Linked DNA regions of Homo sapiens: all the other regions are linked to region 2. Evidence: fine-mapped expression QTL. A gene starts in region 2. Each other region holds a variant in brackets. All regions are shown on one strand. Distances are from middle to middle. Region 1 overlaps PCCA (propionyl-CoA carboxylase subunit alpha). Region 2 holds the start of GGACT (gamma-glutamylamine cyclotransferase). Region 3 overlaps PCCA (propionyl-CoA carboxylase subunit alpha). Region 4 overlaps GGACT (gamma-glutamylamine cyclotransferase).

Region 1 (8,106 bases), 88 kb before region 2:
TTTCCATTTATCTGGTAAAGGAAATAGACAGTTAAGCTGGTAATTTCAGCATAATATGGTGAGTGTTAAACAGACAGCCAGGGTGCCTTGGGAGCCAGTAAGTAGATGTCACCCAACCTGGTAGCTCAGGGAAGGCTTCTGGAGTTGATGACACCTCAACTGTGACTTAAGGTAATGATTATGAGTCAGCCAAGCCAAGGAAAATGGGGAGGATACTGTAGAAGGACATGATACCATGAACACAGCCATGGAGCCACGAAACTTCATGGTGTGTTCAGGTCGCTACAGTGGCTGGCAGCTTGAGTTCTAGGATGGAGTTCGGAAGATGTCACGGAATCCCAGTATGGCAGTACAAGTGCACTTGTTCTCACGGGAGGCTGGAAGCAAAGGCTGTGCTCCTTGTTCCTCAAAAGCTCTAGGGTCTCTTTTGTCTCTTAATTCCATAGTTCTCTCTCCCCTAATTAACACAGAGCTAAAAATAGCAGAGAAATGGGGAATTGGGGGGAAGATTATAGTCAAAGAAGTTTCATCACAGGATGCACAGTTAATTTGGTTGCACTGGAAATTGGTTTCCTTCTCTTAGAAAATAAAAATCATCTTTGCAAAAAATTGTCACTTCTTTTTCTTTCACTTTTTTGAGGGTGAAAATTAGTGAAAAATGAAAATATGAACAAGTTGTGCAAATAAAACTAAAAAGTCACCGAATTTGGCTTTGAAGTATGCATCTGAGAAGCCTACTATTCTTTGGCTTGAATGAGAAGTGTAAGTTGTGGAATGGTAAAGCAGTGTAGCCTCTTTGACACCCAGCCAATTTAATTTTTTTTTTTTTTTTTAATTTTAGTGGCAGTAAGTACTGACTTACCAAGGCTTGGGGTAGCAGATACTATCACAGCTGCCAGGACTTTTCCAGGCTCCTGTCAAGAAACTGCTGCAATTCTGCAAGAGTCTTCAGATTAAATTCATGCCAAGTCATTTCCTCTGTTCTTCTACCAGTGAGGTCACCTTTGCAGCTGACCATTAGTGATGCTGTCAGCAAGAAAAGGATTATGAACTGAGGTCTAAATTTCAGTGATGTCTAGGCAAAAATAAATGTTCAAAAGAATTTAGCGAGGTTTCCAAGACCTGGTAAATTTCTCCCTAAGAGAAATTGCCAGATTTGTGGGCTCTTGATTTTAGCCTGAAGAATCACATTCTTCAGCACTGGAAGTTTTTCCTTCTTTTTTTACTTTTCTTTTTTTTTAGACACAGGGTCTCACTCTGTCACCCAGGCTGGAGTGCAGTGGCAGGATCATAACTTACTGTAAACTTCGAACTACCGGGCTCAGTTGATCCTCCTGCCTCAGCCTCATGAGTAGCTAGGATTACAGATATGTGCCACTACACCTGGCTAACCTGTTTTTTTGTAGAGACAAGGTCTTGCTATATTGCCCAGGCTGGTCTCAAACTTCTGGCCTCAAAGTAATCCTCTCACCTCAGCCTCCCAAAGTGCTGAGATTACAGGCGTGAGCCACCACACCCAGCCCAACATTGGAAGTTGTCATAGTTATCGCCAGTTGCCTCTCTTTTTGTCTGGAGATGTGTAGGTTAGCCAAAAAAAAAAAAAAAAATTACCGATTTTTTTTTATTTTTTCATTCACAAATATTGAATGTCTTCTCTATGTACCAGATACTATTATGCTCTCTCATGGAGGTTAGTACTGTCTACTGGAGAAGACATACCAAAAACAAGAGAGAGAGAAAGAGGAAAGCCACAAATCAGTTGGAAACACGCCCGTATTAGTGACTGAAGAGCCTGCAAATGAAAGCTTTACAAATTCATATGGCCAAATAGATTTCCTTGCTCCTTGAGTTAAAATTCACATAACACAATTAACCATTAGCTAAGTTAAAACATACAATTCAGTGCATTTATTAACGTTCACAACGCTGTACAACCATCATCTCTCTCCAGTTCCAAGACGATTCATCACCCCAAAAGGAAACCCCATTTCCATTAAGTGATCACTCCCTATTCCCCCACCTCCCCCAGCAACCCCTAGCCTACTGTTTGCGTGTGACTTCTTCCACTCAGTATAACACTTCTGAGGTTCATCCACACTGGAGCATGTGTCTGGTCTTTGTAGGTTTATTCCACTACCAACCATGTTCTTTATGCTTAAAATAACTCCTCCCTATTGAACTGTTTTGGAGTGATATTTCCTGGGGTGGAGGTAGTTTAATGATTCATCTCTGTCTTGTTAGCATGCTTGTTTATGGTAGAGAGAAATTTTGTATTCTGCCACCATACCTTGTCAAAACCTTTTAACAAGGCATTGATTTGGTTCTCTGGTTCTGAGAACTTGGCAGTGGAAGACAAGACTTCCACCCGCATTGCAAGCAAAATCATTGATGTCAATTCACGTTATTGTGGAAAACCGTGAGTTGTGACAAGTGAAAGCTTTTCACCAAGCCACAAAACTATGGGCGTGTGCAGTCAACACACGGAACACAAGGGGTTTGCTTCCGTGGCTCAGCATAGCACTCTCTCACTAGTTCTAAAATATTCATAGCCTTTGCTGTTCCCAAAAGACGTTTGAAAAATAAGACTTCTCCTTTGTCAGCATCCGCGCTCACATAACTGGTGAAACTAGGAGATAGTTTTGTATCCCGGAAGATAATCATTGTTCCATTCAGGTGTTGGGCAGAGAGAAATGGCTTATCTGCACATCTGCAGGATGTAAGAGATTAGTGAAATATTTGTGATTCTGATGTTGATGACTTTTAATGTTTGACAGAGAAACTTTTGCAATTATTTTCTTCTGGTCCAGGCCTCACTCCTTCTAGCCCACATGGCTCTAGTCAACCTCCTTTAATCAGCAGAGTAATAGGCAAGACTGTAGTAGGATGCCTCAAGACAGACTTTTATGTTGGGACAAGTAGTGTCTTATTAAGGCGGTTCCAGCCTTTCATATCCTGCCTCCTTGGGATAAAGAGTGTTTGTTTACAGAGCTTCTGGGATAGACTGCTGCATGCTGCATCCGTACCTCTGTTGCAGAAGCACATCTGTCCCATTATGTCTAGTGACAAAAATAAGACCTACGCCTCAGTGAACTTTGCATACATCTGAATGTAAGCAAGACAAGTATATTTGACATTTTAAAAAGGTTTTTTCTTTCACAGTTTTCAAAATAACATAGGAGAAGCAAAGGAAAAAATATTTCTTGTGTTTCTAATTCACAGGTTGCTTGAGACTTTTTTTGGAGGTGCTAGCATTTTATTGGCCACAGTTTTGAAGGAAAATACAATGAAATCATGCTTCTGTCGTTTGGGGAAAAGGAATAACAGATTCATTTTTTCTTTTTTTAAAGATGAGAGAGATAGTATTTGGAATCTATCTTTAGACTATTCTACCTCTGAATCTAATTGAAGTAAGAAATTGGGCAAGAATGGAATCTTACTTACCACCCAGGAAAAAAGCTAAACAATTGTGGCTCAGTCCATTTTCCCCTGAGACTGTCTTCAGATTGAGGCGATCAGTGTTAAAATGGATGGAATCACCAGGCTCTCCACATTCTAGTAAGATTGTAGTACGGTTGAAAGTCAAATGAAAGTCCAGCTCTTCAGTGTGTCATTTCCTCTTGCAGACACCAGACCAAGGGCAGTGGTGGTCTGGCGCTTATATTTTGTTATTATTTGTTGAGACCAGAACTCTCCTTAAGGATATATTTATATATGTTTTAATATTAAAGTTTCTTTTCAAGGAATTTATACTAATTAGTTCATGTAATAATAACATGTGCATTCCATTTAAAGTTACCTTGCTAAATTTTCTAAGACTTGTTAGCTTCCCCATAGTTTTTAATAAACCAAAAGATCAAACGAACAGTCCCCAGTTGCCCAAATATTGAGCAGTTAAGGCTGGTTTCAGCTCATCTGAAATCTGTAAACATTTAAAGAGAACCTCTCTCCCAGAAGATAGTGAGCACGGTGGTATTCTCCAGTCTCAGAATATTAAGGTTACTTACAGACTAGAGAGGCCTTCAGTCTATATTAACGAGTTCCTTTCCTAATCTCACCCTTCTAAGAATATATTTGATCCAATTTAGGGACAGCAACATTGAGGCCAGAGAAAAATTAATGGGGTAGTAACTGTAGACACCAAAACACTCCCCAAATCTTGAGACATCAAATAAGCAAGACTGAATTTATGCAAAAGATACTTTAAAGATGTTTCTTTAGCTGGGCGCAGTGGCTCACGCCTGTAATCCCAGCACTTTGGGAGGCCGAGGCGGGTAGATCACAAGGTCACGAGTTTGAGACCAGCCTGGCCAATATGGTGAAACCCCGTTTCTACTAAAAATACAAAAATTAGCCGGGTGTGGTGGTGGGTGCCTGTAGTCCCAGCTACTCGGGAGGCTGAGGCAGGACAATTGCTTGAACCTGGGAGGCGGAGGTTGCAGTGAGCCAAGATCGCCAAGATCATGCCACTGCATTCCAACCTGAGCAACAGAGTGAGACTCTTAAAAAAAAGAAAAAATGTGTCACTCAGAGATTTTTCTACCTAGAACAAGAGTCATACATACTTTTTGAAATTATTTTATC[T/A]ATGTAAACTTACGAGGTACAAGTGTAAATTTGTGACATGCATAGATTGAATAGAGAGGAAGTCAAGGCTTTTAGATATTCATCACCTGACTAATGTACATGGTACCCATTAAGTAATTTCTCATCATCCACCCTCCTCCCACCCCGTCACCCTTCTGAGTCTCCATTGTCTACTATCAGAAAAGCCTTCTCCAGCAGCGCATTGTCAGCTGAGTCTAGGAGAAGAAAGCCTTCTCATGGACATGAGCTAAATTCCCTGGGAAAGGCCATTCCATAATGGAGAAGGCCTTCTGTTCACCCACAGTGTGGTCCTCAGACCAGCAGCTTCAGCGTCTCCTGGGAACTCACTAGAAATGCAGACCCCAGGCCCAGTGTGGCAGCTCACGCCTGTAATCCCAGCACTTTGGGAGGCCGAGGCGGGTGGCTCACGAGGTCAGGAGTTTGAGGCCAGCCTGGCCAACATAGTGAAACCCCGTCTCTACTAAAAATACAAAAAAATTAGCCGGGCATGGTGGCGCATACCTGTAATCCCAGCTACTTGGGAGGCTGAGGCAGGAAAATCACTTGAACCCGGGTGGCGGAGGTTGGGCTGAGCTGAGATCGTGCCGCTGCACTCCAGCCTGGGCAACAGAGGGACACTCCTTCTCAATAAATAAATAAATAAATAAATAAATAAAATGCACCCAAACCTGAATTGGAAACTCAGGTGGGGGGCCTAGCGGTCTGTGGTTTTACTAGCCCTCCAGGCAAGTTTTGATGCTTTGGTGATTGAGAACTGCTGCTTATGCTGTCTTGGTGGAGAGCACTTCAGCCAGTGCCTCTTCTGCTGATTCTGTATTTATCAAAGAACCACTGACTATAATTTAGTGCTCACACTACAGTTAGGAGGTGTGTGAGTTCCCTTTACAAACCTATTTCTGATTGTAAATTCCTAAGATGTTTTACACATCAGTATCTTGTGAGCTTGATAAAAGTGAATCCATCTCGTTCAGAGTGATGCATTATGAGTGTATAGTGGAAGTCTAGCTTCTAAGCCTGTGAAACAGAGGCCCAGCCCCCTGATCCAGGCAGATTTCACTAAGGTAGAGGCCAGGGTAGATGTCCCTGCTGAACGGGCACCCTCTCATCCCACCTCACCCTGGCTGTGTGTACTGTATATTTTTAACCAAGAGGAGAGCAGAGCGGCACAGAATGGCTGGTACTCAGTATTCCTGGTTTCTGGATTATACAGATGCAAGGGAAATGTCTCCTAGTCTTATTTCATGAGTTACTGTGTAGCATTATTGAATTGCAGTGGTAAGAGGGTTAGGTAGGCCTTTCTCATTTTTGATTAGACAGCTATCATTTACAAATTAGACCACAGGGAATCGACCTTAACTTCTGTGACTAAAGCTTTTGGCAGTTACTTTTGGCATTTCTGGCCCTCTAGACTTGAAAATGACTGAGTGGTTACAATTTACAAAGTTAAGAGAGCTTTCTGTTGATTGGTGTGAATGGTAGGATATGAGACAGACTCTTAGGAGTAAAGGACAGGGATTTAGGGAAAATCCTAGTGGAGTCACTGCAGCCAGGCAGAGTTGTCTGTTACATGCAGATAACAAGTCACGCTGTTGGGGTTAATTAGAAAAAGAGGAAACAAAGTTGAGAAAAGAAGAGGGAGGCAGAGCAGACGGCAGAGGACAGGAATTTTCAGTGCAGCGTTGGGAAAGGTTGTGGAAGCTGAGGCTGACGCAGACCTAGGGCGTTAAAGCTGTATTTACAGCTGGACCTTCTGATTCCTGGGGAGGAGGGGAGGCTGGATCGTGGGTAAGAGAGACTGGCAGGGCCAGTGGAGGATACTCTCCCACTGGAGTTGTCCAGTGGGAGTTGTCTGGAGTTGTCCTGGGCAGAGGCTGCCTGTTGACAGAGGCTCAGCACAGCCATGCTTAAGATAAGCTAGCTAAGCAGGTACGAGGAAAAATAATTTACCTGAAGTTCTTTCTGGCCGGGCGCAGTGGCTCACGCCTGTAATCCCAACACTTTGGGAGGCCGAGGTGGGTGGATCACCTGAGGTCGGGAGTTCAAGACCAGCCTGACCAACATGGAGAAACCCTGTCTCTACTAAAAATACAAAATTAGTTGGGTGTGGTGGCGCGTGCCTGTAATCCCAGCTACTCGGGAGGCTGAGGCAGGAGAATCACTTGAACCCAGGAGGTGGAGGTTGTGGTGAGCCGAGGTTGCGCCATTGCACTCCAGCCTGGGCAACAAGAGCGAAACTCCATCCCCCCCCAAAAAAGAAATTATAATAAAATAAAGTTTTTTCTGTATTAAACATCTTGTGTTTAAAAGTCTACAGTGAGTCAAGGATGTTGAATGGCCAAAGATCATAAATCTCTCCCTCTTTAAATGAGCTGTGGGCTGGGCACAGTGGCTTATGCCTGTAATCCCAACACTTTGGGAGGCTGAGGGGCATGGATCGCTTGAGCCTAGTAGTTCGAGACCAGCCTGGGCAACATGGCAAAACTCTGTCTTTACAAAAAATTTAAAAAAAAATTAGCCGGGCATGGTGGCATGTGCCTATGGTCTCAGCTACTTGGGAGACTGAGGTGGGAGGATCACATGGGCTGAGGAGGTTGAGGCTGCAGTGAGCTGTGATCACACTACTGCACTCCAGCCTGAGTGACAGAGTGAGATCCTCAATAATAAGCAGTCTTCAGTGTTTCATTTTACCCAGGCTAAATGTATTTGTAGTATACATATATGTTTATATTTTGATAGATTCATGTGAGTAAAAGATATACAATAAAAATTGACATTACCGAAGGGGAGTGGGATTAGATGTGAGAGGGTGGATTAGTAAATTGTTTTACACACCTCTTTACCATTGGACTTGTTACAATAAGCCTATAACTATTTTTAACTCCATAAAATACATTGTTTTATAAGAGCTGTCAAATTTCACTTGCTCAGTCCCCTGATTCTCATTTTCTTATAAAATCTCAGGTTCCTCAAATATGAATTCTTCTGCCATGAGAAATTAGCAACATAGTCTTAAAGTCTGGGGAAAGATTATAGTCAGATCCACATAGATAGGACAACGTTCCAAGTCGGGAGAATGTTCATATGAGAATTGAATAGAAGGCCAAATTTTTAGGCTAAGAATATGATCAGAGGACACTTCCAGTGGAGAGAGTCAGCGTGAAGAGTTGAGGTGCATGGCTGTTGTGCATCTGAGAGCGTGTACGCGGGCGTGAGAGCGATTTAGATCCCTGTGTGTTGAATTCGAGACCCACCCAGACAGCCTCCAGTGTCTTCTCAGTGACTGTGCCCAAGATTTCTGTCCATCTGTGGACATGTTTTAATGACAGCAATTAGTGGTAATGATGGCTATTAAATACTTAATGACATTTCTGTGTTCTGAGGCTTCTTCATACAAGAATTCACTTACTGGCCGGGCACCGTGGCTCACACCTGTAATCCCAGCACTTTGGGAGGCTGAGGTGGGCAGATCAAGAGGTCAAGAGATTGAGATCACCCTGGCTAACA
Region 2 (8,106 bases):
GGGGCCAAAGAATGCCTTGAATAGAGGAACCTTCCCAGTGACCTAGAGAAAGGGTTCAAAGTTCTCAAGACCTCCTTGACAAAATGTGGTACATATACACAATGAAGTACTATTCAGCCATTAAAAAGGAGATCCTGTCATTTGCAACAATATGGTGCAGCCGGAGGTCGTTATGTGACGTGAAATAACCCAGACACAGAAAGACAAACTTTGCATGTTCTTACTCATTTGTGGGAGCCAAAAATTAAAACAATTGAACTGACTGAGATAGAGATCAGAATGATGGTTACCAGAGGCTAGGAAGGGTAGTAGGGGGGTTGGGGGAAAGCAGAGATGGTTAATGGGTACAAAAACACAGAAAGCAGGAATAAGATCTAGTATTTGATAGCACAACAGGGTGACTATAGTCAGTAATAATGTAACTATACATTTAAAAATAACTAAGAGTATCGTTAGATTGTAACACAAAAGATAAATGCTTGAGGTGATGGATACCCCATTTACCCTGATGTGATTATTACACATTGTATCTCATATACCTTGTAATGAGGGTTTATTATTACACATTGTATCTCATATACACCTATTACTAGGTACCCACAAAAATTAACTATCAAAAAAGAACTATTTGAGAAATAACAGCTCTATATACTCTCCTACAAATAAGAAAAGTAAAAAGAAAAAGAAAAAATGTCTTCTCAGCCATCAGGCAAAGCCAATTTTAGTAATGCTGAGCTCCTATTTTGGTAATGTTGAGCTTCTTTGATTCTTTGATGAGGGTTTCCAAGTCTTTAAAGTCAGATAAATTTAGATTTAAAAAAAGTCAAACCACTTCTGAAGTAGACTTGCCAAAAATGGCAAGCATGAACCTAATTAAGCCTCTAGATCTAACTTCTAGTTTACAGGAAATATAGGGGATAGAGAAGCAAGCCAAACCACACTCCACGAAAAGCAGCCCAACAGATCCAGAGTGTGAGGCACCCTACAGGCAATCAACCAAGTAACATCGACAGTCATTGGTATTGAGGAAACCCGCCAAGGCTGCTCTAGACTTGGGTCGGCAAACCACAGCCTGCGGGTAAGTCCAGCCTGTGGGTGGATTTTAAAACACAAAAGCTTTGGAAATTAAGTATTATTGGAACACAGCCATGCTTATCCATTTACTATCACCCCTGGCTACTTCTGCATGACGATGGCAGAGCTGAGCAGTTGTGGCAGAGACCATAGGGCCTGCAAAGCCTGAAAGAGCTGGTATCTGGCTCTTCACAGAGACATCTGCCACCCCTGCCCTAGATTGAAAGGGGCAACAGCTGAGCACGGTGGCTCACGGCTGTAATCGCAGCACTTTGGGAGGCAGAGGCAGGTGGATCACTTGAGTTCAGGAGCTCCAGACCAGTGTGGCCAACATGGTGAAACCCCGTCTCTACTAAAAATACAAAAATTAGTTGGGTGTGGTGGCATGCGCCTGTAGTCCCAGCTACTTGGGAGGCTGAGGCATGAGAATCACTTGAACCCAGGAGGCGGAGGTTGCAGTGAGCCAAGATTGTGCCACTGCACTCCAGCCTGGGTGACAAGAGTGAGTGAGACTCCGTCTCAGGAAGGAAAAAAAAAAAAAAGACCAGCCTGGGCAATACCTGTCTCCACCAAAAAAAAAAAAAAAAAAAAAAAAAAAAAAAAATAGCTGGGCATTGTGGCACATGCCTGTAATCCCAACTACTCAGGAGGCTGAGGTGGGAGGATGGCTTGAATCCAGGAGTTCGAGGTTACAGTGAGCCATGATCTCAGCAGAGCTGGTTCCTGTCTCAAAAAATAAAATAAAATAAAAAGGTAACAGTCAACAAATTCTTGTCTGGATGTGGATTCAAACAAACCAACAGTAAAAATAAGTTCATTTTTGAGGTGATCAGGGAAATCTGATCATGGACTAGGTTTTAGAAAATGTTAAGGAATTATTGTCAATTTCATCAGGAGGTGATAATTGTATTATGGTTACACAAGCAAATGCCCTTTCTCTGGAGAAACATACTGAACAATTTAGGGGTGAAGTGTTATGTTGTCTGGAATAAACTGCTTTAAACTGCTTCAGCCACAACCAAAAAAAGAAAAAAAAAGATGAAGTGGATATGGCCAAACAAGACTTGTGAAGTCCATTTGATGGATATATGGAAATTCATTCTACTTTGCTGGGCTTTTATGTTTGCTTAAAATTTTCCCAATAAGCAAAACAAACAAACAAACAAAATCAGAACCTTGATCAAAATGTAGAGGTTATCACTGGAGAGCCTTGCTTTCCAGGCACCCCCACCCCCGACCCCACCCCTCCTCTCGCGGAGTCCAGCCTCAGCACGCCAGTTGTTCACCTTTGTCTGAACACACTGTCATTTTCAGCTTCTTATTTTTGCTCATGGTGTTGGCCACCCTTTCCATTCCTGTGCCTATAAAAATCTGTTCTCTGCTTAAGGTCTCCCCAACTGTGACCTTCTCCTGGCCCTCCAGTGAGCACTCACCTCTCAGTTCCAACAGCACACTGCCTCTGGTTTCATTCTTCGCTACGTTCTAGCTATTTACCAGGTCTGTTACCTCATGATGCCATACAATCCCAGAGACTTCCAATAGCTAAGTCTTTTCTGTAAATCCATTTAAGGGGGTATCACGATGCCTTTTACGGAGCAAGCTCCGCAGTCCAGGGGCAGGTCCTCACGGCCTAAACACGGCTGCCTTATCCTGAGTAGTTTTACTGACAATAGAGCTTCAACTGAAGAATGAATTCCTGTTCAGCAGGACACTGGGCAGTCATGTTTAATTGAGAACTCTTAAAATTCCTAATAGAGTTTGCCTAGATGGAGGATGTTCTAAAGAGGGCTGCGAATATTTCGTGTTTCTGTCCTCTTACTGTCACCTTTCCTTGGGTCCTGTCCCCTCTTCAAGCATGGCTGCACTACACTTCCACACCAGCCTGCTGGTGTCCTAATCACTGGTAAGGGCCCTGGCTCGAGGTGGATACAAAGCCTCCCAATGACTTCACTTCAAGAATGGACACAGATTGGAAATCTTACTAGTAAAGAGAGAAATGAACAGATCATTTTAAAATCCCTCTTCTATTCTGCTTACTGCTACCTACTATCCAGATCACCACAAACAACCACCCTCTCCTAACTAGTAGTAGTTAGGGCCTGGTTAGTAAAATCAACTAGCCCAAAGTATTTCCGTACAAAAATCCACCAATTAGAAATTAATTTAACTTTGCAAACTCAGCTTTTACAATACGAATCTCTGCTAGAACACAGTGGTCTGCTTATTCAGGGAAGTCTGGCTTCTTCTGGGAATAGTTTCAGGAAAACAAGGCATTTTGGGAAAATACGGGCAAACTGCAGGTGCTCTTCATCTGAGCATTTCAATAAATTGAATGAGGCCAGGGAAAAGTCTTCACTTACAGGTAAATGTACATAAGGACACCTACGTGTGTGTAAGACCTACACTTTAAATAGGTCACCTTTAGTTTTTCATTAATCATTTCTCCTGGGACATTTAGCAAAACGAATAACTTGCTTTTAAAAAAGGCCACAAATCCCGGGTGCAGTGGCTCATGCCTGTAATCCCAACATTTTGGGAGGCCAAGGCGGGCGGATCACGGGGTCAGGAGTTCGAGACCAGCCTGGCCAACATGGTGAAACCCTGTCTCTACTAAAAACACAAAAATAAGCTGGGCGTGATAGCAGGCGCCTGTAATCCCAGCTACCCGGGAGACTGAGGCAGGAGAATCGCTTGAACCCGGAAGGCAGAGGTTGCAGTGAGCCGAGATCGCGCCACTGCACTCCAGCCTGGGCAACAGGGCAAGACTTCATCCCAAACAATAAAAAGGGCCAGAAATCGACTGCATTTTCTTATCACTTAAATATTAAATCAACTAAGCGTGGAGTTAAGAAGCTGTGTTCAAAAAACACTTAAGTCTGCTTTTGAGCTTGTGGCGTTGTCCTTGGCCCACAGAGTAAAACAGCAATGATAACCATAATTAATAATCAAGGCAGTAAATTTCTTCAAAATTTCAGAAGTTTCACTAATGGCTCCAAAGAAACCTTAGATCAGAAATTCACAAGTGCCAGGAGACGTTTTTAGATTTCTTTTGCAGCTTCTAGTCTCCTTACAAACAGGAAATCTTTAAAATGAAAAACAATTTCTGAGAAGTGTTAGCCCGGTTCAGCTGAGGTCCTCTGAAAGCCAGCGTGTGGGCTGTCACGCTTCCTTTACAGGGAAGCAGCGCCCGTGCGTGAGGCGGTTCCTGGCTTTTACCGCCCTCTGCCCGTTCTGGCAATCGCGCCCGTGGCCCCCGCGCGGGGCAATGGAGGACGCGTTTCGGGGTCCACCGTCCCCTCCCTCCGGCTGGCCTCGCCGGCCGGCGGCGCCCCAGGCCTCCTCCCTCACCCGCGGGGACGCCGAGTGCTGCGGCCTCGACCCGGACGCCGCGCAGGGAGCGACGCCCCAGGTTCCCGCGGGCGCCAGGACACCCCGCCTGGGGGGCGGAGCAGGCGCAGCCCCGACCCCCGCCCGGGCTCAGCGCCTCACCTGCCGGCAGCCGGGGCTGTCGGGGAGGGCAGGGCCAGGGCGGAAATGCAGGGCCGGGCCCGCGCCTCTGCTCCCAGGCCGCCCCCGGCGGCGCCCCCTGCAGGCGGAACGCGAGGCCCGCCAGCCCCTGCGGCGCCCTCGCACACACGTGGCCGCTCGCACAACTGGCCGCCTAACAGCCAGACCCACCCACGCCGATGCCCGCCGGAGACGCCCCGCCGCAGACACAGCGCAACCAGCTTCACACACCTGGGGACGCCCCACAGAAGTCACATCCACCCTAACACACCTGGGCACTCAGGCTCAAGCCCCGACTGCATGGTGGACCCTGACACACCTGGGCCACACCCCACAAAACAGACTCACAGACGACTCCACAAGCTTGGGGACACGCCACATCAAATGGACACACATGCACACACAAATGAACCCAAGCGCAGACACACTTGGGGATGCCAACCATGTGTGTATCTATCACATCACACACCACCAAGGCCCCCCAGCTGGGCATGCACACAGCCCTGATACCGAGTCCAGACCGCCATCTAGTCACACTGCCCACTTACTTACCAATACTCTTAAAATGAAACTGTGGCCGAAGGAGACAATGGAAGGATGACATCACCTCTTCCCTAGCTCCAGGACTAATTTAAGCCCCAGAAATTATAGGACTGAGAACCAAAATCGAAAGAGAACATTTTCCCTAGAGACAATGGGTTAAAGCAATGCCACTTGGGGGCCAGGTGGTAGGAATGGTACAGCTATGGAGAGAGTGACACTTCTGTCTCTCCGAAAGACACAAATCTGTGTTTATCAGATTAGCAATAATCCCCCTTAATCATTTCCTGCCCTTTCTACTTTCTCATGGATGTGGACTGATTGAAACCTTTATATAAACTGGTTTTTATCCAAACGTTTCCAACAATGCAGATGTAATTGTATTTTGAACAGATGTACAATTCCAAAAGAAATCTAAACCATCAGGTACATAAGTCGTTGGTTTTCACAGTTTTTTCTTGTCTTGGACACTTCATAATTAAATTGAAATGTATTAAAAAACCTTGTCTAGCTCATATTAATATTTTTTTTTTTTTTTTTTTTTTTTTTGAGACGGAGTCTCGCTCTGTCGCCTAGGCTGGAGTGCAGTGGCGGGATCTGGTTCACTGCAAGCTCCGCCTCCCGGGTTCACGCCATTCTCCTGCCTCAGCCTCCCAAGTAGCTGGGACTACAGGCGCCCGCCACTACGCCCGGCTAATTTTTTGTATGTTTAGTAGAGACGGGGTTTCACCATTTTAGCCAGGATGGTCTCGATCTCCTGACCTCGTGATCCGCCTGCCTCGGCCTCCCAAAGTGCTGGGATTACAGGCGTGAGCCACCGCGCCCGGCCTCATATTAATATTTTTAAAGACAGCAGTAATTCTTAACTTTTTGAAGCGAAAGAATGATTCCACTTTCATCTCTTTTTTGAGGGGGGAAAATCATGTCAGCAAAGGAAAGTGAGACAAATAGATAAATAATTCTTCTGATAAAGGAAAATTAAAGATGACGCAGACTAGACGAATTTTTTGTTTGTTTTGAGATGGGTTCTCACTCTGTCACCTAGGTTGGAGTACAGTAGCATGTTATTGGCTCATTGCAACCCCTGTTTCCCAGGCTCGAGTGATCCTCCCACCTCAGCCTTCTGAGTAGCTGGGACCTCAGGCACCCACCATCACGCCCGGCTAGTTTCTTGTATTTTTTGGTAGAGACAGGATTTCACCATGTTGCCCAGGGTGGTCTTGAACTCCTGAGCTCAGGCGATCCACCCGCCTTGGCCTCCCAAAGCGATGGGATTACAGGTATGAGCCACAGTGCCTAGCCAAGACAAGTGTTAAGTTGCATCCCAGATAAGGCTGGGGAAGCCCAATCTAACATAGAATAGGCTCTGTGGGATGAAGCCTTCAGTTTAACTTCTTGGAAAACAACTCACAGTTTGAAGAGCAGTTTTTGAAATGTGGTCCCAGTCCAGCAGCACTGGCAGCACCTGGGTATTTAGAAATGCACAATCTCCAGCCACACTGGAGGTGTCCTGACTCTGGGGGTCAACTCAGTGTCAGCAAGTCTGGGGGTGGGGCCCAGAGATGGACATTCTAATGAGTGATGCCAGTTCAAGTTTGAAAACCATCGCCTTTTGAGGATGTACCTCGGTGCTTCTCAAACTTTAACGTGCACGTCAGTCAACCCAGGGTCTTGTTTTAAAATGTAGATTCTGGTTCAGCTAGCCAGGAGTAGGGTCTAAGATTCTGCAGGTGGACAGAGGGTGCTAAGTGAAGATTTTCTTGTGTATAGACACACTCCAGGGTGCTGTCACTGTGAAGACAGCTCCACAGCAAAGCTTGGGTCTCATAGAGATAAAACTCACAAAGTGCCTCAAGGAAATAGACTGGTCAATCTAAGCAGGTCCCGGGCTTGTCAGTTTAGGGTTGGTCAGTTATTCAGGATCCCTTGGCAAGCCAACTGCTCTGGTAGCTTTTAGGAACTGGGTCGACTCACCAAGTCTGTTTGGTTGTGTCCAAATGGTACAATTGAGTCATTCACTGCAAAGGGTTCAGCTGCTCATTCTGGCCCCTTTGCTCTGCCTTTTTACAAACTCTCACATCCTCTAGGCTTAGGGTCATGCAGTCAGCAAATCACTATGCACCTGTATTAGTCTGTTCTTGCATTGCTATAAAGAGCTACCTGAGACTTGGTAATTTATAAAGAAAAGAGGTTTGACTCACAGTTCCACAGGCTGTACAGGAAGCATGGCTGGGGAAGCCTCAGGAAACTTACGATTATGGCAGAAGGTGAAGAGGAAAGAGTCACATCTTAAATTCTTAAACAGCCAGAGAAGGAGAAAGAGAGAGCAAAGGAGGAGGTGCCACAGAGTTTTAAACAGCCAGATCTTGTGAGATCTCACTCACTATCACGAGAACAGCCAGGGGGAAATCTGCCCCCATGATTCAATCACTTCCCACCAGGCCCTTCCCTGACACCCGGGATTACAATTCAGCGTGAGATTCAGGTGGGGACACAGACCCAAATCATATCAGCACCTGTTCAAAGCTCAGCAAACATTTTCCTTATCAACTACAAGGATTTAAACCAGCAAATTGTCTTTAACCAGAATTAACCAGTTTGGCATTTGTATTTGCCTAAATCAGAGCAGGTAATTGCTGAGCTCTGTTTTCCAGACCTGGGTGTAATAGATGTCTAATTTATATTCCTATTTAACTAAATACATTACTACTTAATATTATGCAAACGAGGCCAGCCTCCTCTGGGTGTTTCTCTCCTGCGTGCCTCCAGCATTGCAAGTAACGTCCAATAGAGGGGAAGATATCCCCTAAGTCTCTTGAAACTCTAGCTATAATGTGAGGTAAACAACCAAAAGGAGGGCTATATAAGGAGCTTGAAGTCCAACTGAATAACACCATAAAATCTACTGAAATATTACCAAATTATTTCAGTAAACCATTTAATAATCATCTTTGGGCCTAAAGAGCCTGCAGACTAAATCCAACC
Region 3 (8,106 bases), 63 kb before region 2:
CGAGCCGGCAGCGGGGCTGGACGGGTGGCCCCTGGGTTCCCGCGCCCTCCAGAGTGAGGCCGCTCGTGCATGGGCCATTAAAGGAGTCTTCAGCCGGAGAAAGGGCTGGGCGGCGTCTCCTGCCCGCCTGGTCTGTCTTTGTAATTTGATGATGGTTCCATCCTTGCTCAAATACTGCAGTCTCCCGTGGCCTCCTCCCCGTCTCGCTTTACATGAAGATGTTGGGATGTGAATACACGTTTCTTCTTCAGGAAATATCAGGGGATATTTACCAGCCTATCTTACCGGCTCAGAGGAAGTTGCTATTAATATAATCAGATGCGAGCAGGCAGTGCCTTTTCACTCAATCTGAGATGCCTTTTTTTGTGACTGTTAACTGAACCTTTCTTCAGATCTAAGGGCCTTAAAATGTGTGGCATTCAGGCACCTGTGTTCCAAGCAGACCAGCCTTTAACAATGAAATGGTGGGATTTTCACTTTTGTGGCGTAGACACCAGGGCTGATATTGATCCGTGTTTTTCCGGTGGTCCGGCGTTGCAGAAGTGGAAACTGCAGCGGGCTGGTAAGCCCTCCGAGCCTTCTGTCTAATTTGGCAGAAAAACACAGAATGTAGGACAACAAAAGAAGCCTCCTTTTTCCATAAAAATTCTTCCTCCCACCCACCCTTCTTCCCCAAAAAGGGGACTTAATTTTTCAGCTGCACGCAGTGATTTGGTGCTCACTCTTGCATCGAAACAGTTGCGGTCTGAACAGGCAGGAAACAGTTTTCTTTTAATTGCCGAAATCATTCGGAAGTGCTTCATGCCCTGCTTCTGTACAGCAGATGCTGTGCATTAATTGGCCTGCGTAGAAGTGACCCAGGGTTCCTTGCAGCGGGCCCAATTTTAGGCAGAGGGTTTAAATAGCTTATTTATTATTTTGTATAATCTGGCGTACATTGTGTGCTCCTGCACGTGTCGTATTTCATGGTCTGCAGTTTCTAATGTCATGTGGGTTTCAAAACCTGTGTTTCTCTGGTAATGTACTAGCAGCAGGTAAGCTCAAAATACCATCCATCAGGAGCTAATTTTTTATCCAGATACTCCAATGACTGATGAACCTGTCTTTTGTATGAATGTTTAGCACAGTGGAAAGCCATATGCCACTGGCACCGTTTCCTCTGCATTCCTTACAGTTGCTAGAGAGTGGGCTTCCTGGGGGGCGGGGCGGCTCGATGCTGTGAACGTCCCCTGGCCTCTATTTCAACGATAACACCTTTAAAACAGCCCTGGGTTTGGGCAACAAAAAGAGGATGGGCTGTCTTAAAGGAGACCTGACTCCCTCGTCATTTTCTTTATCAGAAATACGACTGCACACTCTTAATAGGGAACCTTGTTTTGTTACTCCCCGTCTGTTCCAAACAGACCTCAGCCCATTAGAAGGGCCTCCCTTGTGTGGGAGACCACAGCTGTTACTGTAAATCTCATCCACTCACTGTATCACCCCCATTTTGTGGCTCTGAAGGATGAAATTGAGAAATGGAATACTGTGCAGTCATCCTTTACATCTCCAATTTTAGGCCTTTGCCATCATTTTCATGCTTTTATTCCAAATCAAATAACATTAGTGAGCTACACCACCTTCTGATGAATATCTGGTCTTGAGCACCGCTTTCAAGCCTGTGCTTGTGGGGGCTTCCTTTTATGTTTGGTGGTCTTTTTTCCCCCGTTCTCTTCTTTTTCTTCCTGCACTTTCTTTGAGCGTTCTTCGTGGTCATGGCAGTCTGCAGTTTGAATGATCGGCATTGCCAAATGTGTCCCTGTCTTAGCATGTTTTCTGAGAGGGGGCATGTGCGGGAGAAGGTTCTCTGTCTTTTAATCTTTGTGGAAGGAGTGAAGAGAACTTGGTAGAAGGATATTGGGGGCTTTAATCAGAAATAAGAAGTGGTTTAAATCATTAGCACAACAAAGCATACTATAAGCTTGAAGATAAAAGTCTCTGGGGAAAGAGTCCTCTGAAAATAAATGGAACTTGATAGATTTCCATATCATTTATAACTTCCCTTAATTACACTTGGAAGACTTGCCAGTAAAACTGGAAAATTGGCAGCCTATATCCATTAGAGTCATTTTGCCGACCATGGCAAGCAGCTGGCTTTACGGGATTTGATTCCCATCACTCACAATTCATCATCAGCTGGAGGTGTCTGCAGCTCTTCAGCACAGAGCAATGCTGGGTGACACTCGGGCCCCCACGACATGCGAAAATCTGCTGAGTAAATGGGCCGAGGTTTCTCTCAAGCCTTGTTTGGGGCAAGGCCGACTCCTGCTTAATGAGTGCCGCTCTGATAATCGGATGCGAACGTGAACCTTGACCTCGTGTCAAAGGAGAGGACGCAATAAGCTGGATGAAAGATACAGGATTCAGGCCTTCAAACTTTACACCAATTAGACAGGGAGCGGGGAGATACATCAGGCCCACTAGGTTCATCAAAAAGACTTGTGAGGCTTGTGACCATTTTGTAAGCCCAACATTGGAGACATCCTGTCACAATCATTAAGTCTTTATCAGATGATTCACAAAAGTGTTGGAGAAACGTGCGCACACATCCTGCAGGAACGGGCCCCGCACATGGGGGCGTCTGATGGAGACGGAATGGTGGAGGGCCCTCTCTGTGCACCCAATTAATGCTTGGCTTCCCAGCCACCCTGGGCAATCCGGAAGGTGTTGCTTCCATTGGGCCCACTGCCCAGCTCCCTGGTGTACCCTACATGTACTCTACGGTGTGCGACACATTCTGCAGGAGTCAGCGCTGCTGGGAGCAAGGCTCCAAAGTCCTAAGGTGAGAGCCCCTGCTCCCAAGGGCCGAGTGCTGGCATTTTGCTGTTGTTGGAAGGAGCCCAGCTCAATGCCCAGCCATCCCTGGAGCACGCCCTCGAGTGTCAGCCTCTTCCCACAGACTGGGGCAGGTGTAGTTTGTGTTTCCATTGCATTCTTTGACATTTGGTTTGTACATTTGGTTCTCCAGCTCAATTTTTTCCAAAGGATGAAACATGTTGAAATTCAATTAAGCTCGTGTGTGTGTGTGTGTGTGTGTGTGTGTGTGTGTGTGTTGGGGTAGAACATGTTTCTGTTGAGCAAGATGTATCTCACTATTTTGTAAGGCATGAAGGAAGTTTTTAAACACCATCTCTTAGGGATGAATTAGGGAAAACGGTCTACAAAACAGATGGTGCAAAATTAATAGAGAAGTGTGCTACTTAGTTTTTCATTTACAGCTAAATAATCTAGGCTGGGCACAGTGGCACACATCTGTAACCCCAGCACTTTGGGAGGCCAAGGTGGGCGGATCACTTGAGGTCAGGAGTTTGAGACCAGCCTGGCCAATGTGGTAATACCCTATCTGTACTAAAAATACAAAAATTAGCTGGGCGTGGTGGTGCACACCTGTATTCCCAGCTACTCAGGAGGCTGAGGCAGAAGAATCGCTTGAACTTGGGAGGTAGAGGTTGCAGTGAGCTGAGATTGTGCCGCTGCACTCCAGCCTGGGCAACAGACCGAGATTCTGTCTCTAAGATAGATAGATAGATTAGATAGATTAGATTAGATTACATAAGATAGATAGATAGATAAAATAGATTAGATAGGATAGATAGGATAGACCGAGATTCTGTCTCTAAGATGGATAGATAGATAGATAGATAGATAGATAGATAGATAGATAGATAGACAGACAGACAGGCAGATAAGATAGATAGGATAGAGCTAAATAAGTAGACTAGTAGACACCACGAGAGGAACTAGGGAGGGGAAACAGGAATGAAAGGCGGATGGAGCAGGGAGGATCTAATTCTATGATTCAGTGCTGTGCTTGGATGGGGCAGAAGATGGGATCGCTTCAGTGGGGACACGCCTTCTTTAAAGTCCTTTGAATTGAATTGCCGGACTCTCACAATCAGACAGAAGGACTATTTGAATTTCAGGCCTCCCCACTTTTCCTGATTGTCTCGGGCTAAATCCGAGGTTTTTTTCTGATGAACAACTGGGGACCCAGCACTTGCAGTTACCTGTGCGTTACCTCTTTGCAAATCACCCACATTAGAAGCACAGAGCCAGCCAGAAAGATGGTCAGTGGCAGCCACAGCAGAGCCCCTTAAGCTCCTGTCCACCACCCACTTGCTCCCAGGCCCTGGCGGGGCCCAGAGTAGAGCTGTAGCCAGGTCAGGCTGGCCTTTGCCCCTAGCGTGACCTTGGGAAATCCCCAGGCCGCATTTCTTCATATTTGCAGTTGAGTTGCTAACGCACTCACTTGAAGATCCTGTAAAACAGAAGCAGGAGCTGCCTGCCTGTCTGGCCCGCAGATTCTGAGCAAGGGGATGGGAGGGGACGTGTGGTGGAAGGGCACACCTACTGGCAGAGAGGGTAGGGGCTGTGCCACCCATGTGAAGCCAATGTACTTGGCGGGGGGACGGGGCTCTGGCCAGTCCTGGGCCCTCAGATGCCTGCAGAGGAAGGGCTGGGTGGGTGTTTGGGAGGCCGGCATGCAGTCCCCAGGAAGCTCCTCCACCTGGAGAGAGAACAGTGCCCAGAGCGGGAGAGTGGATTCCTCATTTTTGGATGGCATTTCTACTATGTTCTGTTGAGTCTCAGATCCACTTCCCAGAGAGTCCCCGGTCCTGTTGCCTGAGTGCTCAGTCCTAGGTCAGAGTCAGTCGCAGTGAGTCCAGCTTCTAAGAGGACACGGCCAGGCTTCCAGGGTCCCCTGTGTGGAGCTGGCTGGCAGGTGTGCTGCAGTGAACTGGACCTGCTCCTGGATTCCCTGGTCTTTGCCTGCCTTTGAAGAGAGAAAAAAGGCTGTAAAATGCCAACTGGAGGGAGTGACTGTTCTGACACCCCTGATGGGGGCCTCTGC[A/G]TTGTCTCTGCGCTGCCCCTCCCATCCCCCTGCAAACAGCCCTCGAGGCTGATTCTTCGCTCTCCCTGGAATGCAGATGCCACGTGAAAATGAATCAAAAAGGGCAGCGCGGGCAGCGCTTCCAGGCCCAGCTCCTCAGCGCGGTGTCTCTCCTCCGTGCCAGCGCCAAAGCCTTGGCATCGTCTCTCTTCCTATATTTCTATGCCAGGAAGAAGCAGCCCACCACCTGAACAGCAGAGGAAAAGAGTACATCGGCTCAGGCGCTCCAGAGTGCCAGCAAGACAGCTTGCGCCACACGGGGGGGCCAGAGGGGGACTTGGAGATCATCTGGGGATTTCAGGAAAGAACATTCTCTAGGCGCTTCTGAGGCATTGGACGAATATGGCCACAGTGGTGTGAGGGGCCAGGAGCCCCATGCCAGGACACCCACCCACACCACATAGCCATTGCCCTAGGAACCTGGACTTGCCCGTTTCAAAGACTGGGAGGCCAAAGAAAAACCTGGCCGGCTCAGGACGCTGACCCATCGGGGCAGAGCGAAGTGAGTGCGCAGCATGGTTTTCAGCTGCAGCTCACTCCTGCAGGGAAGCCTCACGCTTAACGCCAGTGGGCTTAACCCAGCTCAGCCTGGCTGCCCCTCAGGATGAAAGGCAAGTTCTGAACGCAGTCTGAGCAAAGGCCCGTGGGCGCTCCCAGTCTCCTAGCATGGAATGCATGTAGCTCTGGAAGTCATTCCTGTGTCTGGAGGGTTTTCCGGAAGCTGCCTTGTGCCTTGTTGTGGGTACTCGCTGTGTCTTGCAGAGGATGGGACAGTGGTCCTCGTGGCGCCAGGGCCGAGCTGTTCCCAGTTCCCCGGGACTATAGACAGAAATATGTATATTTGGTGGTGGTTTTTTTTTTTTGGTAACAGCTATACTGAGATGTAATTCACATACAATTTAGCCCTTTAACGTGTACGATTCGGTGGTTTCAGTCAATTCAGAGTTGTGTAGTTGTCACCACAATCAATTTTGGAACATTTTTATCACTCTCAAAAGAAACCCTGTACCCTTCAGCAGTGACTCCCCTTCCCTCTTCAACCCCAGGCAACCTCGAGTCTGTCTGTAGAGATCTGCCTATTCTGGACATTTCAGGTAAGTGGAAAACATTCCAATTTCCGAACACCTCTGTTAGTGGCAGAGCCAGACTCAGAGATCCCCAGGGTAGGCCCCGCCGCCAGGGTCCCCACTTCTCCAGGGTCAGGGATTTTTTTTTTTTCCAACGAGGACTTTATGAGAGAGAGAATGGCTTTTCTCTACTGTTCCTAAAGATGAGCTTGGAATAGGAAACATTAGAGATTGTTGCTGCTGTTCATAGACACATATTTTGGGGCATTTGACAAAGAATTTCTTAATGGCTTCATTCCTAAGTGTTAATGCAAAATTAGAATGCTTTTAAAACTTCTGCCCATTTTTGTTTTCCAGGTAGCAGAAGGTCAAGAAATTTGTGTGATTGAAGCCATGAAAATGCAGAATAGTATGACAGCTGGGAAAACTGGCACGGTGAGTCCCTAAGTCCCCATCAGCCCAGGCCGGCCCTGTGATGGAGGAACGCCCACCTTTGAATCGTGGGTGGTTTGGCTGGAAAGGGCCACAGAGGCGCCCTCTCCCCCTCGCTTCTACAGAGGAGGACGTTAGGATTGGGAGCTTTTGCCATTCTGCCCTGATGCATCCCTGCCTCGTAGAGAGCGTGGCTTCCAAAAAGTCTGTGCTTTATGTTCAGGTAGTCAAAGAACAATTGTTCTTCACCTTAATGTCTTTCTTTCAAATTAAGGGGTCTTTAATTTTTAATGTTTACATCTGTCTTGAAGGCAGTTAGTTATCTGAGACTTAGGTGACACAGCAGCAAATGGTTTTACAAATTGCAAAAATTAATGTAACTCTTCAAGACAATTTCTCTACAAAGGGAACAATTCAGTTGCAGATCAAGAGAAGCCAAAACCCCATGTACATGTGGGACTTAATTATTTAGGGAGAAAAAAATATTAGTACTGAAATTCATTCATAGTGAAACTTAAGTGTATTTTTTTCTTGAAGATAGAAAAGTCCTTTTAAGCAGTAACTTCATTATTCTTCCTGTGACTAAAAAGACTGAAAAGATGCCGTTAGTAGGTAAATGATCCTTTTGTGAGGGCCGTTGTGGTTTGGAAGTGTCTGCATGGGAGAGCATGATGGGAAGCGCAAGGCTGGCCGTGTTCTGCATGTGGCCATGCCTTGGGGACATCAGGTGCAAAGAGAGATCCATCAGTTCATAACCAGGTTTGCATCAGAGAGACACACAACCTCTGTCTCATGCTCTGTCACTGCAGAAGGCAATGAAATGGATTCTCAGAGAAGGGGCAGCGGGGATGTCATGCCTGGTCCCGGCTGGGAGAACAGAGGCCCAGGTGTATGCCAGGGGCTCCTGAGCCCAGCCCGCCGGTCTGGAGGGGTGTGGACAGTTGCACTGTGCTGGTATGGTGTGAAGAGTAGAATGACATGATTTGTGGCGTTTTTAAGGAATTCTTTCTAAATTACTTCTTTAAAAAGTGAACAAGAAAATGTTGGTTTCTGTTCATGTAAAAATTTTATCTGTTCTTTGGGATTTAACATTTGTGCTGCCCTAGTATCACGACATCCATCCATGATGAGAACTTGGCCTAGGTGTGGGGGACCGAGAACGTGTGTCCGCCGCATGCCAAGGGCCCTGTGCGGCAGGTCTGAGGTGCTAATGCAGAAATGACCTTGGCCTCATCAGTTCCCTGAAGGGGCATGGTGCCATGTGGTAGTAGGTTTCCTGTCCTCGTGGCCTGGGTCTCCCTCGGCCCTCCTAGTTGGAGTCTTCCTGTGCATTCTGTTCACCTCACCCCATCCCCAGGCCTCTCAGTTCCAACCCAGCCAAGAAGAGCAGAAGTGGCCCGAAGCCCCCGTGCAAAGTAGCAGGCCCTGGTTCCTACCTGCGAGGCCACTTTTCCTCCCAGAGAAAAAAAGTTCACAAAGGAAACAGATCCTCTACTCTGGTCATCGCTGCATCACTAACACTGCGTCCTCTAGTAGGGCTGCTAAATGGAGGCAGGAGCATTGTGGAAAGCAGCCTTTTCAGTCCAAGCAGCATCTGCAGTGGCCGATGAGTTCTAATCCATTTTTCATTTTCAGGCCCAAGCAAGAGCCTCCAAGAAGTCAAATGACTGTCTCTTC
Region 4 (8,106 bases), 23 kb before region 2:
TCCAGCTCCATTGCTATTATTTTACCAATGATTATCTACAAGCTTTCCTTGAACGTTGTGTTATATTTCATTTTGGTTATCATTTTCTGGTATAAGCAACACTTCCATATTAGGAACAGCCCCAGAGAGCTGCTTACATCTGACTTGGTAATGGTGGTGAACTGTATGGTATGTGAATTATTTCTCAATAAAGCATTAAAATAATGCAATTCTGTATAGATCCATAGCAAACAAAAATAACACTGAAATGGTTTCTATCATAAAGTTAATAGTTGATGGATGAAGATGGTAAGCCCTGCCTCCTGCCTCTTCACCCCGATTTTGAGCTATCTTAATGCAGTGTCTTCCCACAGAAGGCTTTCCTGGACATGTGGCCTTGTCTTACCTGGGGCTATTAACACCAGGATGAGATTCTGAAATGTGCAGTGCTGGCTAAACACCCAGCAAGTGGTACTGGTTCCCTTCTCAGATCAAGAGAATGCTATCTTCAGAAGATGTGTGCAGCAGACATTCCTGTACTTAGAAGAACCCAGCAGTGGGAGGGCCCGGGATGCCCTTCACACCTCCAACCCAGGACCCTGGAGGGGCAGAGGTGCTGCTCAGTGGGGGGCTGGGGCTCACGACCTTGGCAAATGACTGAACCTCTCATCCTGGATCTCCTTCTCTGTCCAGTGAGACCCTGGCACTTCCCAGAGTGGGGGAGTGGGATCCCCTGGGAGTATACAAGTGCCCAGCATGGGTGGGTTCAAGCAATGACAGTTGTTTTGAATGAAATAAAACAAATAGGAAATCATTAACTCTGCTCAAAGGTCATGCGGCAGAGTCTGCATGCCCCGGAGGAGGCTGTGCCCAACAGTGGGTTCGAAAGGACCAGATTCCAGGCAGCTCCTGGGTGACTCACTTTGCCTCACTGGGGTTTAGGTGCCTCTAAATAGGGACAGAAACTCTTACCTTGCCTACCTCGCAAGCTTCAACCTAAAGCTCAAATTACTGGAAGTACACAGAAGTTGTGAAATTTTATTCTTCTATAAAACGGCAAGCCCCTGTCCACTGCCTGTGTGGACCCCGACAGAAACTACCCTAGATATTCTCTACAACTAAGCTCGGTGAAGGGCTAAGACTTGATTTCCATTTTCATAAATACACCTTAGTTTTGCACAGAAAAAAAAATTTTTCCTTGCACAAACACCATTTTCTTCAAACCTGGCACCAGCAAGGATCATGCCTGGCACCTCACGCAGTACCTGTGATTCACCAAATATACTTCACCCACCTTCACAGCACTCAGAGGACACTGGGACAGACAGCACAGGCAACTCACCCAAAGTCACACCACTGGTAAGAGAGGCACATGAGGCCAGGTGTGGTGGCTCACGCCTGTAATTCCAACACTTTGGGAGGCCAAGGCAGGCAGATCACCTGAGGTCACGAGTTTGAGACCAGCCCAGCCAACATAGTAAAACCCCGTCTCTACTAAAAATACAAAAATTAGCCAGGCATGGTGGTGCATGCCGGTAATCCCAGCTACTTGGGAGGCTGAGGCACGAGAATCACTTGAACCCAGGAGGCGGAGGTTGCAGTGAGCTGAGATCACGCGACTGCACTCCAGCCTGGGCAACACAGCGAGACAATGTCTCAAAAAAAAAAAAAGAAAAAAAAGAAAAGAAAAAAGAAAAGGCACAGCCTTAAACTTGGGTGGTTTCTTGACTCCAGAGTTCAAACTCCTAACAACCCCAAAAAAAGAGCTCCCGTTCCCCTGCCTGGGCCCCCACTGCCATGTGCTAAAAAAGAAAGCAAGTCAAAGCGTTACTTGCCTTGAATTGCAAGCAGACTCCACACAATCTTACTTATATAAATCAAGCCAAGCAGAGGCTTCCAGAGAAACCAACCCTGCCGGCCCCTGATCTTGGACTTCTGAACCACTAGAACTGTGAGAAAGTTCTGTTGTTGAAGCCACCCGGTCTGTGGCACTTGGTTGTAGCAACCCTAGTGAATGAATGCACTGATGGATGCTGCCCCACGATCAATCTGCAAATATTATCCTCACTCAGAGGGGCCAGACACATGGGGCACATGTGACATGCATCCACTGATCCAGAACACCCAGCACGGGTAAAGCCACAGTGACAGGTAGGGGGATGGGGGCTGCCAGGGGCTCGGGATGGAAGAATGGGAGGGATGCTTAGTGTGGAAGAGGTTTCTTTCTTTTGGGGTGAGGAAAATGTTCTGGAACTAGACAGAAGTTGTAATCACATAACATTATGTACTAAATAATCATGGAATCCTTCACTTTTAAATGGTTTTCTGTTCTGTGAATTTTATCTCAATAAAAAAACCTCTAAATTAAAAGTAAATAAATCTTTTAAAGTGGTCCAAGCTGGGCATGGTGGCACATGCTTGTAGTCCTGGCTACTCGGGAGGCCAAGGTAGGAGGATCACTTGAGCCTAGGAGTTTGAGTCCAGCCTGAGCAACACAGTTAAGACCCTGTCTTTACATTAATTAATTAAACTAAACTTTAAAAGATGATACAGATAAAATCTACTATTAGAATATGATGTGTGGAATGCCACAGTGAAGGGTTTGTTCAGCATGTCATAAGGAACAGGAAAGAGAAGAATGAATTTTGTGTGGGTGACTTGGATGCAGCCCCCAACAGGTTGGGCACTGCCCCTGGAGGAGGGTAAAAACCATGCTGGAAAGAGGGGAAAGGAGGAGGTGGGTGCCTTCCAGGCAAGGAGCGTGAGCCCAGGCGTGTGCAGGGAACAGAGATTTGGAACCCCTGGGGGCCTGTGGGCTACTGGGAACCAAAAGACAGGGACTGGGTGGAGGGAAGCCTGGGGCAGTCTCGGTGCCTGTGGCCACCCTGGGCTGGACCTGCGGCTGGGGCTCCCCACGCCTGTTGAGTTCCCAAAATGCATGTGAAGCTTCAACGCTGATGTTCTAGGTCCCTCGCAAGAGAGTTGGATTTAGTAATTTAGGAGCTGGGGGCAGGAATCTACATTTCAAATAAAATACAGTATTTTTCAAAGCTCTCCAGGCGATTCTGGTGATTACCCTTTGGGAAAATCATTGATTGTGGGAAGGGTCTATCTGTTTTACAGTGATGCTCTCGAACTACTAACTTTTAGATTAAAGAGGATTCATGATGCTCTGTATACTTTAAAAACAGAGAAGGGGCACTCCTTCATTTTCACAGGTTTTCCTAAAAAAGACTTACATTCAACCTTCACCTACATGGCAAGTTCAAAGAACCAGAAGAGCTAATTTTCCAAGTATTAAAGATTGAAGATTTGTATAAACATCTTTTTTAAAAAAATTATCCAAGTTATACAAAAAGGAAAACAAAATATGTGAAAATGAAGATAATACAAAAAGCCTTAGAATAACTAACAGGTAGCCCTTCCAAGTTTAGTACACATTCACCCTTTAAATTTCTTATCATTCTATTTAACTACGAGACTGTTGCCTAAATAACGCTGAGTACACATTTTCTAAGAGCATTATGTTTTTACTTTCATGATTCAAGGTCGACCGAAGTACAAATATTAAGCCACAGGAATGGCCATTTGAAAAGTGTGGAAATAAATTACATTTTTTACTTTCAACACCTGGTGTCACCAGCATCATGCAGTACCCAGCTCTGAGTGCTCTATGCCCCGGGCAGGGGGCGGGGGGGCTGGGCCTGAACCCAGCAGAAGCCAGGCCTTTATGGGGGAGGGAAGCCCAAGGCCCAGGTCACCCTTCCAGAAACAGCATTTTAACCACACTCCAGACCGCTACTATTCCCAGGGAACATACAGGTTTAAAGGGAGGTTGTGATGTTTGTTTTTAACTTCAAGCACAATGATGCAAGGAAAAGCCTGTTGTGATACAGACCTGGTATGCTCTCCCTGTAGTATTTCACAGGGGATGGCCGCCGCCTCCTTCCCAATCTTTGACCTTGTTCCCACTGCGTATGTGGCTCTACTCTAAGAATTCACGGTTCGTCTTGTTTAGAGCGGCTTGGTGAGATGAAAAATCTAAAATCTCAGGGAAAACTTCATTCTTTAAAATAATTTGTGCTCAGATCAGAGTTCAAAAAACTGGGAGATTTCAAAAGGAAAGACACAATCCTTTAACCATCATGCTGAAAGATCAGAGTGTCAAAAGGGATTAGTTGGTATTTTAAAGCCTGGTCCAGTCAACCTACCTGACAACGTTAACAGCTTTCATTTGCACATCTGACTCCTGACAGTCAAGGCAAAGTAGTGCTTACGAGACGTAACTGAAAAAATAACAGCCCTGATATTTCACAACTTTAAAACGTGGTGCTGGTGACACCAGGTGTTTGAAACGAGGTCGCTGCCTTGTAGCTTTCACAGCAAAAGGATTCTGCAAAAGCATCTCTGCAGAAGCTGGTTTCTAACCACTCAGGTTAACCCCCCTTTCCTCCCCAGCTGCTTGAGCAGTGTTTTACGTTGATGATGACGCCCATTTCTTCTTCCCCACTCAATTCTGTCCTCTGTGATCCTCTCCCAAATAGTTTCACTGCTGCTCCCCCTCAGAGCTAGAGTGATACCTCCAACATGCATGCCTGGATGTGCCCCTGCCTGTCCAGCTGTGGGGACTTCTGTGTGGCAAGCAGACTCTCACATGGCACCCACCAAGCCCATGCCTGGCATCCCTGTCCCTGTGTGATTCCTGCCCCTCCAAGCATGGGTTTAGTGACTGACAGCCAACAAACACAATCCAGAGGAAGTGATGGGATTCAGTTATAAAAAGACTGCGGCTTCTGTCCTGGGAGCTCTCTGCCGCTCTCAGATCCCCTACTGTGAAGGAAGCCAGCTGCCATGCTATGAGCATTTCCATGGAGATGCCACGTAGAGAAGAAGTGAGGTCTCCACCAACAGTCAGAAAGGACCAAGGCATGCCAGCTGTCAGGGAAGTGAGCTCCAG[G/C]TCTCCCCAAGTCAAGCCTGGAGAAGGCCACAGTGCAGCCAGCACCTGAGTGCAGCCTGTGACAGACCCAAGTCAGAATCACACAGCTAAGCCACTCTTAGATCCTGAGCCACAGAAACTGTGGGATAATTTTTGTTGTTTTCAGTCACTAATTTTGGGGGTGATTTGTTCCTCAGCAGTGGATAAGTCCAGAGGGCCAATCCAAATGTCTTCACGTGCTCACAAAGGCCAGTTGCCGCTCAGCCATGCCTCACACTGCCTGTGGTACTTTCTTTGCTTTCTCGGTTGCTACTGCCTTTCAGGCCCTTCACACTCTTCACTCCTCAGCACTCTGCCTGGCAAAATCCTCCTTGTGCTTCCAGGTTACTTCAAACACCATCCTTCTGGTACCATGTCTCTCACCGTGAGCCCTAGAGGCAGAACTGACCCTGGGACACTGCTGCCCTTTGCCCCTGGCCTTGCGGCTGCCGAGGTCCCCTTTACCAGATCCCTGGGGGCCCGGGCACCAGCAACTCATGCTCCTCGGCTCTCAGCCCTGGTAACTGGGTGGGTAGGTATTTAAGAAGTGTCTGCTCAGGGAGTAAACCACTGGTTAGTTGCCAACCTGATGCCCTTTATCCCTGAACACAGTCATGTCTGTTTCCCACAAAGACATCTGATCTCACTACACTACAACCTGTGACATCAGGGCATCAGCATTTGTGACTAAGTTTACCACCTTCTCGCAGACAGTTTGAACTTTTTCCAACTGTCCTGATAACGTGCTTTACAGCAAAAGGGCCCAGTGCACAATCCCAATTGCATGTAGCTATGTCCTTTAGCCTCCTTCCATCTGGAACAATTCCTGCCTGTCTTTGGCATTCACGATCCTTTAAAGATTGCAGGCCATTGATTTGGTTGAATGTCCCTGAATTTGGTTTTGTCTGATGCTGTCTCCTGATTAGATTCGGATGGTATATCTTGAGCAGGAATCTTTCCGAAATGATGCTATGTTCTTCTCACTGCCTCCTATCAGACACCATATGATTTCAACTTGCTCCATTATTGATGACATTCACTCTGATCACTTAAGGTGGTGACTGCCAGGCTTCTCCACAGAGAAGTTACTCTTTTGCCCTTTATAGTTAAGCATTTTATGAAGAGGGATTTTGAAACCATGCAACATCTCATTCACCATCAAACCTGCCACTTGTTCATTTATTTATTTGTATCTACATGGACTTATGGTTTCCTATTATATTCAATGCTATCATTATTTCTTTTGATGCTTACATTGTCCCCTTTTGGACAGATGGGGTGAATTCCAGCAAGCTTCTCTGTCCCCTTGGCCCATCTTCCTCATTATTCCATTGCTTTCTGGTTCAAGATGTTCCAGGCTCATCTTAGACTTTCCCTGTCCCAGCCCTGGCATCAGCCCTCTCTCCAAGGAGCTCTTGTTCTCTTGTAGCAAATGGTATTTAGATGCCAAGATCTGGGTGCAGGGTGTGCTGTCTTTGGGCTGCATCTGTCCACAACCCCTGCGCCAGCAGAATATATGCCTGTATCCACATATAAACATACACACACGCACACTTACATTCACTTCTTTACACCTTTACATCTATGTTCACTTCTATATCTGTCTACACTTATTGAAAACCATGAATTCACACAAACACACACAACCCAAAGCATATCACAGGATTCATTCCAGTTTTCTGCATTTCTGTATTAATAACTCTCTTCTTTGACACTGGGAAACCTGGCTCCCACTAGCCTGAATGCAGTTATGTATCTGACTGATCCTTCTATGTGTTAACTAATTTCTAATCTCAGGTACCACCATCTTCCCTCACAAGACAAAAAAGGCTGGTGGAGCTCTAGCCATAATGTCACATTCAAAGGAGGTGGCATGAGGCAGGGCAGGTGAAGAACCAGGGCCCTACTTCCAATTGAATCGGGTTCCTTTTCAAAACCTCCCTGGAAGCCCCACACATTTCTGCTTACCTCTCATTCACCATAACTAGGCACATGGGTCACTGAATAAAACAGGACCAGTAATTAAGAAAGAAGAGAATGGATATTTGGTTGCAATCAGCAATTTCTACCAATCCCACTTTTTATATTTATTGGCCAACATCCTGCTGTCAGGGGTTACTGAAGACCTTGTATTAGTCTGTTCTCATGCTGCTAATAAAGACACCCAAGACTGGGTAATTTATAAAAGAAAGAGGTTTAATTGATTTACATTCAGCATAGCTGAGGAGGCCTCAGGAAACTTACAACCATGGCAGAAGGGGAACCAAACATGTCCTTCTTCACAAGGCAGTGGCATCAAGGAGAAGAATGAGTGCCCAGTGAAGGGGCAAGCCCCTTATAAAAGCATCAGATTTTGTGAGAACTAACTCACTATCACGAGAACAGGATAGGAGAAACCATCCCCCATGATTCAATTATCTCCACCAGGTGCCTCCCATGACACGTCAGGATTATGGGAACTACAATTCAAGATGAGATTTGGAACTACAATTTAAGATGAGCCAAACCATAACATCCCACTGCTGGCCCCTCCCAAATCATATGTCTTCACAATTCAAAACACAATCATGCCCTCCCAACAGTCCCTCAGTCTTAACTCATTCCAGCGTTAGCTCAAAAGTGAAGTCCAAAGTCTCATCTGATACAAAGCAAGTCCCCTCTGCCCATGAGCCCACAAAATCAAAATCAAGTTAGTTACTTCTTACATACAATGAAGGTACAGCCATTGGATAAATAAACCCATTCCAAATGGGATAAATTGGCCAAAACAAAGGGGCTACAGGCCCCATGCAAGTCTGAAATCCAATAGGGCAATCATTAAATCTTAAAGTTCCAAAATGATCTCCTTTGACTCCATGTTTCACATCCAGGGCATGCTGATGCAAGAGGTGGGCTCTCATGGCCTTGGGCAGCTCCGCCCCTATGGCTTTGCAGGGTACAGCCTCCCTCCCAGCTGCCTTCACAGACTGGCATTGAGTGTCTGCTGCTTTTCCAGGTGCACGGTGCAAGCCATTGGTGGTTCCACCACTCTGGAGTGTGAAGGACCCTTTTCCCACAGCTCTACTAGGCAGTGCCCCAGTGGGGACTCTGTGTGGGGGCTTCAACCCCAAATTTCCCTTCTGCACTGCCCTAGCAGAGGTTCTCTATGAGGG

What was found. PIP is the estimated chance that this variant, and not a neighbour inherited with it, causes the effect.
Region 1: its variant is fine-mapped to the expression of GGACT in whole blood (TOPMed, PIP above 0.99).
Region 3: its variant is fine-mapped to the expression of GGACT in whole blood (TOPMed, PIP above 0.99).
Region 4: its variant is fine-mapped to the expression of GGACT in whole blood (INTERVAL, PIP 0.92).

What each region holds. Positions count from the first base shown.
Region 1 is chr13:100,496,646-100,504,751 of GRCh38, forward strand. All of the region lies in intron 21 of PCCA (propionyl-CoA carboxylase subunit alpha), which reads left to right. Among named protein-coding and RNA genes, the nearest start is that of PCCA-AS1, 20 kb to the left of the region's middle. RefSeq lists an enhancer at 5,848-6,485. The variant T/A (reference allele first, on the strand shown) is at 4,582.
Region 2 is chr13:100,584,178-100,592,283 of GRCh38, forward strand. It overlaps GGACT (gamma-glutamylamine cyclotransferase), which reads right to left and starts at 4,612. Exons shown (of 3, transcript NM_001195087.2): 1 at 4,564-4,612. RefSeq lists a silencer at 4,245-4,764.
Region 3 is chr13:100,521,321-100,529,426 of GRCh38, forward strand. PCCA (propionyl-CoA carboxylase subunit alpha) reads left to right here. Exons shown (of 24, transcript NM_000282.4): 23 at 6,355-6,432. Among named protein-coding and RNA genes, the nearest start is that of PCCA-AS1, 44 kb to the left of the region's middle. RefSeq lists an enhancer at 3,792-4,314. The variant A/G (reference allele first, on the strand shown) is at 4,892.
Region 4 is chr13:100,561,159-100,569,264 of GRCh38, forward strand. All of the region lies in intron 2 of GGACT (gamma-glutamylamine cyclotransferase), which reads right to left. Among named protein-coding and RNA genes, the nearest start is that of GGACT, 24 kb to the right of the region's middle. The variant G/C (reference allele first, on the strand shown) is at 4,937.